2 linked regions of the Homo sapiens genome follow. The protein of the gene in region 2 interacts with the protein of the main gene of each other region in a pairwise test. Each region holds a gene or a part of one and is shown on either strand. Other genes may lie near its edges. The genes, in order: MLYCD and CROT.

Region 1 (3,920 bases), on a different chromosome or scaffold from region 2:
CATCTTCCAATCCATGAACCATGCATGGACCATTCCATTTGTTTAGGTCTTCTTTAATTTCCTTCAATACTGTTCTGTGGTTTTCCATCTACCAGTCTCACACTTCCTTGGTTAAACATGTTTCTTTTATCCCTTCAGATGTTGTTGTAAATAGAATTGTTTCTTTAATTTCATTTTTGGATTGGGGCAGTCTTTTGAAATAAGGACATGAGTGGGAAAAAGCAGAGGATGGCTGTTGACGCCTAGAGAAAAAAGTATAAACACAGAGAAAAAAAAAACAGAAGCCAGAAATTACATAAAAAGGAAGGCACCGGGAAAGATGAGAAAGAACAGGGTTGTGGGAGTACTACACTTAGCAAATGCTTAAGCAAAGTCAAGCTTTCAAGACAAGATTCCTAAAGCAAGGCAGGAGTATCCTAGGACAGACAAAAGCTCACTCGACAAGGCAAAGAGACAAACACCAGAGTTTGGACCCCACCAACTCCCTTAGCCAGCTGGCAATATGGTTTCACCACTTCTTAGAAAAGAGGAATGGAGAGGTGTCCTCAAAAGCCACCACTAGGCTTTCAGAATGTTTTGTGTGTCTGTGTCTTGGCAGAATGAGCCAAACGTACTTTCTTCGTGCCCCATAAGATGAGACACACCCAGCAAAGGCTGTCCTCATACAGAACTACCTCCAGGTGTCTTTTATACTGCAAGACCTGCACCAAAGGGTTCTACCTATAGAAATCCTAGCACCTAGACATAGTCAACCAAGTACATGGCTCCCTCACCCTCCAACCAAAGATGCCATATTTCCATCAGAGTGGAACAAAATCCCACTGTGTTCCTAATGCCTCCTGCAATTTTGCATGTGGGAGACATGGCTGGTATGTGACATTCTCTTCTACAGATTGTAATGGATTGGGGAAGGAGGGGGAACTAGAGTTCAGGCCTATCTTTCTAGAGGACAAAATAAATATGCCTTGATAACTGCAATTATCTGAAAACTATTTCAAAGAAAACTCTTTGTCTCATTCTGGCATTTGCTCAAGGGTATGGCTTTCCATCAGTCTCTCTGTCTCCATGTCTCTTTTACATACATATGTATGTGTATATGCGTGCGTATGTGTACATACATCCATACATATAGACATATTCTCTCTCTCTCCACACACACTCACACACCCCTCCAACCTCTGTGGCTCTGAGCGTCATGTGTGTAAGACACTGACGCGAATGGTGAGTGCCTAGGCAGGGGTCAAACAAAGGCTACCTACCATGCCAGAGGATTGCCACAAACACCTCTTAAGCAAGCATATTCCTTGGCTCCTCCCAGACACACTGAATCTGAATCTCTAGGATTCTGATTTCGGAGCCCAGGAATCCTCCGGTGCAGGAGTTCCCAGGTGACTCTGATGCACCGGGAGGCTGGAGGCGCTCGGATCTAGAGAGGAGGCGGCACTTGTGCAGTGCAGTCGGGAAAGAGAGGAGGGGCTGGGCCGGTGCCTTTAGGCGGTCAGGTGTTAGGACCGGAGTACAAGCCGCCAGCCGCGCGGGAGCAGGCCCCGAGGCAGCCCAGCCGCGGGGCAGTAACCTTTAGCCACACTTGGCCTCCGGCCGCCGCCAGAGCCGCTCCGCCCCCGCCGCCTCGCCCCCACCGCCCCGCCCTCCTATTGGCCGCGTCCCCAGCCGGGCTCGCGGCCTCGGCCAATGGGGCCGGCGCGCGCCGGAAGCCGGAAGCGCGGCAGCGGCGGCGGCGCTCCCCCTCGGCAGCTGTTGTGGGGCACCATGCGAGGCTTCGGGCCAGGCTTGACGGCCAGGCGTCTCCTCCCGCTGCGGTTGCCCCCGCGGCCGCCCGGGCCCCGGCTGGCGAGCGGGCAGGCGGCCGGCGCCCTGGAGCGGGCCATGGACGAGCTGCTGCGCCGCGCGGTGCCGCCGACGCCGGCCTACGAGCTGCGCGAGAAGACACCGGCGCCCGCCGAGGGTCAGTGCGCGGACTTCGTGAGCTTCTACGGTGGGCTGGCCGAGACGGCCCAGCGGGCCGAACTGCTGGGCCGCCTGGCGCGGGGCTTCGGCGTGGACCACGGCCAGGTGGCGGAGCAGAGCGCCGGCGTGCTCCATCTGCGCCAGCAGCAGCGGGAGGCGGCGGTGCTGCTGCAGGCCGAGGACCGGCTGCGCTACGCGCTGGTGCCGCGCTATCGCGGCCTCTTCCACCACATCAGCAAGCTGGACGGCGGCGTGCGCTTCCTGGTGCAGCTGCGGGCCGACCTGCTGGAGGCGCAGGCCCTCAAGCTGGTGGAGGGGCCGGACGTCCGGGTAAGGGGCCGCCGTCGATCCCCCGGCAGCGCGGACTGGCCGCCCTCCTCGAGTAGTCCTCACTTGCCCCCTCCAAGTCCCACACACCCCGCCTTCCCTGCCCGATAGCACGCTCACTTCGCCCGCAGTTACCGCCTGCCAACTGTGTCCCCTTCCCACGCTGTCTGAGTCCTGGCCTCGTCAGAGCACACCCCCGCCTTCCTCCAGTCTGTCCTTGAAGTCCTCACTTGTATAGTGTTTACTAAATACTCAGCACTTGGTGGTCTTTAAGGTAGCTGTCACCTCTCGTACCTGATTAGTGTGTGCTCTACAGTCTTTTGAAATTATTGTAGCTGAGAAGTGTTTCATCTATATGGTATACCTGAACTAGAGCATCAGGCAGCCTTCTGAGACCCTGGATGGTGTTTCAGAAGTTCACTGGGCACCCGCTATGTGTGAGACATTGTCCTGAGAAGTCCTGTGAAATGCACAAAGGTAAATAGGACTCAAGGTCACCACCACCACCCAGGAGTCTCCATGGCTTCTGGCCTTGTCTGTGCTCCATGACTTTTGGGAGGGCATTTAACTCCCTGCGTTCAGTACTTAATGTGATGATTCTGAGTTGACTTGAGGTAATCAGGCATTAGCACAGTTCATTCATGTTAAATGCAGACACATACTTTGAGATTTAAATGATTATGACCCGAAAGAAGGCCTAGAGCAACATATACTCTTCTTTTATACTGTTAGTATTAAATACGGCGAAAAACTAACCTGCCCTTTTTTTATTTTTATTTTTGTTGCCCAGACTGGAGTACAGTGGTGTTATCACGGCTCACTGCAGCCTCGACTTCCCCAGGCTCAAGCAATCTTCCCACCTCAGCCTCCTGAGTAGCTGGGACTACAGGTGCAGGCCACCATGCCCGGCTAATTTTTTTTTTTTTTTTTTTTTTTTGTAGAGAGGGCGTTTCACCATGTGGCCCAGGCTTAACCTGCCCTTTTAATGAACGAAAAATGACGTAAATGTTTCAGGAAGTTTTGGACATTCAGAAGTTTGTTATGTGCAGTTGGTGTTAAAAAAAAATTGAACACTTGAATGATTATGACTTGACCCATTTAAGAACTCTAATACTGGTTTAATAGTTTACATTCCTTCAGTCTTACGTGGGTGATAACACGTATCCCTTTTACAGTAAAGGAGAACATGCTGAGGTTGTGTTACTTGTCCTGAAATTCAGAGCGAAAAGCTCTTGCTGATCACCCACCCTAATCCAGGGTTATTTGCACTACGCTTTATATCACTGTCTTACCGTTAATCAGATGTTTATTAGAAACTTTCTTTTTTGGCTACTTAGATGCATAAAATTGGGCATAATTAAGTATGGGATTAATGTCAAGAGTGACAACAGTGGCCATGATTTGATTCCCCGTGATAGCTGGTTAATTTACAGCGCTAAGTGTTACTGAGGGCCAGGCATCTTTGGCCGTAAGATTCTCAGACAGAAAGCCCACAGTTGCTAATTGCATGACACAGAATCAGTCATGAATTCTTACTGTGTTGAATTATCATGTTCTGGGCTCAAGCCTAGTCTGAATAGCTGAGTTTTTCTGATCCACACTTGGACATAGTACTTGCAGTATAT
Region 2 (3,820 bases):
CTAAGTTTTTGGATTCATGTATAGGTGAGTGCTCTTTGTTGTCTCTTCCATTCCCTTTGTTGTCCCTTTTCCTTTCTGCAATATACTTTGCAATATACTCAGCCTTCTAGGCCCCAGGAGACACAGGAATACTCATATTCCCCAGGTTGAGGTTAGAGGCCCCACCCAGAGTTGGATAACCTATTTGAGTCTCAGAGTTGTATTTGTCAGTACCTACTGTTTCTTAATCGGCTGTTATTTGCTGTCTGTGTCTCGCTAGTGACACATGTCGCCCTGTGCTTGCATGCCCTGAAGTTTACACCTGTCATTTTTTTCTGGTCTTGATGATTTTCATTCTTTGGGTTATTTAATTCAGCATCTCTCAATTGAGGGAAGTGAACATTCTCCAAGTTGAAAAATAATAATAATTTTATATAATTTAGAGCTTATTTAAAATTTACCTATGAAAGAAGGTAAAAAGGAACAAGTAGGGAGAGAGAGATGTGAAGAAAGTTATGAATATAAAAATGTACTTTTGGCCGGGCCCAGTGGCTCATGTCTGTAACACCAGCACGTTGGGAGGCCAAGGCAGGTGGATTGCTTCAGGGCAGGAGTTCAAGACCAGCCTGGGCAACATGGCAAAGCTCCATTTCTACAAAAAATACAAAAATTAGCCTGGTGTGGTGGTACATGTCTATAATCCCAGCTACTTGGGAGGCTGAGGTGGGAGGATCACTTGAGCCTGGGCTGTCAAGGCTGCAATGAGCCGTGAATTTGCCACTGCACTCTAGCCTGGGCAAGAGAGCGAGGCCCTATCTCAAAAAAAAAAAAAATACATATTTTTGGTAAGAAAGGTTATACAGAAGGGAATACTTTTGTATGAAAAAGTATCTTGTATGGTAAATTTTTGTCCTAAAGTAAAATGACTGATTATTTAGGAAAGAGAGAAGTTTAGAACAAGTCAGAAAGTCCAAGCATGTCATAGACGGTTTGTGTAAGTCATGATAAGATTTGTGAAGGGGAATTCATGAAAGGAATTTTGTATGTGATTAAATTGGTTACAGTGAAAAGAAAATCATTTATAAATAAGTCTTTCTAAATTTTGGTCCCCGATGTTAAAACAAGATTTTTTTATGGTATTAATCTGCTCTTAATAAAATTACAAGAAATTTTACTTTTACTTTTATAAACTGTTTCTTTTAAAAAGTCTCAGAATCATATCCCAGAAGTTCAGCTTTTACTGTGTCTCACTGCTTTTTGCTTTTTTGAGGTCTGAGATAATTCTTTCCTTCAGCTTTCTCATCAACTTTTTTTTTCTCCAGTTCTAATTTTACTGTTGTTATGAGCTAATGCTAAAATATTTTATCTTGAAGGTCTAGAAAAGCAATGTTTACCTCTAGTATAACTTGATTCTGTACTTTTGGCTTTTAAAATACATCTAAATTGTCAATGTAATCAAAAAACTAATGCTGTTCCTAAGAGTGAGGTAATCCTATGCTATAATCATAACCTTGAATATACTCTTCCTAGGTCCAGTTAAATCCAAGCACTTTTTTCATCAGGTTTGATGTCCAGGTTATCTAAATGGGCTTCCCATAAGCAGAAGTAGTCACACTGCAGAATTTTTCTTTGCCTTTTTGGTAACTGTCTTAAGAAACAAGATTGTATAATTCCTATGCTGTCTTTATTAGGTTTTTTTGGTTGCCAAAACTAAGATTTAAAAGGCTTAAGGTTTTTACATCATGTAACCTTCTGTATTGCTTCTAAAGCATTTTCATTATCACTTTGGCTAAATGAGTAACTATTATTTTACAATGACCTCTGCTTCTGTTTTGATCAAATGTTTTCAGCCTTTTAACATGTTTAATAAACAGCCTCAAAATCAAAATCCTAAATTAAGTCTCTGACTTAGTCTTATTGCTGGGATTTATTAAAGTTATAAAAATTAATCACTACAAGACTGTAGAATCTTTTTACAGCTTTTAGTCACACCATGAACTCCATTATCACCATAATATAGTTTGGATGTCCCCTCCAAATCTCATGTTGAAATGTAACGCCCAGTGTTGGAGGTGGGGCCTGGTGGGAGGTGGCTGGATCATGGGAGCAGAGCCCTCAAGAATGGCTTGGGCTGTCCCCTTGGTGACAAGTGAGCCCTCACTCTGATTCACACCAGATCTGGTTGTTTAAAAGTGTGTGGCACCTCTTCCTCACTGTCACTCTCTCTTTCTTGCTCTTGTTGTCACCATGTGAAGTGCCTGCTCCTGCTTCACCTTCTGCCATGATTGTAAGGTTCCTGAGGACTTTCCAGAAGCCGATACCAGCACTATGCTTCCTGTATAGCCTGCAGAACTGTGAGCCAATTAAACTTCTTTTTTGAAAATAAATTACCCAGCCTCAGGTATTTCTTTATATCAATGCAAAAATGGCCTAACACATACCACCTCCACCCTGATAATTATATATACTAGAAAAGAATCAGTTAAAGGGCCAGGCGTAGTGGCTCACACCTGTAATCCCAGCATGTTGGGAACTGGAGGCAGGCGGATCACTTGAGGTCAGGAGTTTGAGACTAGCCTGGCCAACTTGACAAAACCCCATCTCTACTAAAACTACAAAAAGTTAGCTGGGCATGGTGGTGCATGACTGTAATCCCAGCTACTCAGGATGCTAAGTTGGGAGAATTGCTTAAACCCAGGGAGCAGAGGTTGCAGTGAGCTGAGATTGCACCAATGCACTCCAGCCTGGGCAACGGAACGAGACCATGTTTCAAAAAAAAAAGAAAAATAAAAGAAAAAAAATCCGTTAAAGGACTCCCTCTAGTTCCTTAAAAGGGTCCTTATCAAGTGCTATTAACTAATCCTTGTGCCTTACAGTTACAGGGCTTTGACTCCTGAGTACATATAGCTCATCTAAAGAAGGCACTGACTCCTGCCAGTATCTGATAGCAAGCTGAAGCTAATCAAAGCCTTGTCTTTAGACCTGGACAATCAAAGTAAACTATTTTCATGAGACCTACAGACAGAGACATAGGGACAGGCCTGTATTCAAAACATTAAGATTCATTTAATAATTTTGCCTATATCTGAATATAATTTTCTATGCCTTGATATTAAATAATTTAAGTATTTGGCTACGTATGGGCTTCTTTTCATGTCATTCTCATAACTAGGTAGGGCTTATGACATTTTTGTTTAAAACATTAATTCCTTATGTTTTGTTTTCCTCTATAATTTGAAACTATTTAGTCCTTCCAGGCCCAGAGACTACCACATGAGATTGTAAGGGCTTGTTGTGGGGAATAAAATCAATTCAGACCCTCCAAATCAAGGTCAGGCAAACTGCCTCTATAGCTGAACAAAATGTTGTATTTTATATGGCTAATTGCTACAAGTCAAGATTAAAATAGCTTAATGTATAGAATTTATAAATAAGCAAATTTTATAACCGTCCCATTTGGCTTTTGGCTCTTATGTTGCTTAAAAGGGGTTTTAAGGTTAAGGAGTGCCTGCCCACCTCCATTCCCATCTGGCCTAGAAAGTTTAATTGGCCATAAGTCTTTTGTTTAAGTCCCTTGGCCATAGTGGTCCCACCAAGGGACATGATGGATCCAGGGCAGGTAGCACACCACCCTGACATCAATACTGGACAAAATAAGAGCTTGGCCATTGATGGCATACCTTAACAAAAAAAAGGGGAACTATAAACTAAAATAAATAAGTTTTTAAAAGTTCTAAGCCCTTTCCCAACAAAATGGACCCTCTTCTTGGCCAAAGGGCATCCAAAACACCTGAAAACTAATTCAGGCCATGAGGGGAAGCAGGGAGATTGGACATGACTT

The links.
Region 1: the proteins of CROT (region 2) and MLYCD come close enough for resonance energy transfer, tested with the Homo sapiens proteins (one large-scale study listed by BioGRID).

Annotation. Positions count from the first base shown.
Region 1 is NC_000016.10:83,897,375-83,901,294, forward strand, and holds the start of MLYCD (malonyl-CoA decarboxylase, mitochondrial), read left to right. Parts: upstream 1-1,740; 5' UTR 1,741-1,770; coding exon 1,771-2,298; intron 2,299-3,920. UniProt on the Homo sapiens protein: Catalyzes the conversion of malonyl-CoA to acetyl-CoA.
Region 2 is NC_000007.14:87,352,096-87,355,915, reverse strand, and holds part of CROT (peroxisomal carnitine O-octanoyltransferase), read right to left. Parts: intron 1-3,820. UniProt on the Homo sapiens protein: Beta-oxidation of fatty acids. The highest activity concerns the C6 to C10 chain length substrate. Converts the end product of pristanic acid beta oxidation, 4,8-dimethylnonanoyl-CoA, to its corresponding carnitine ester.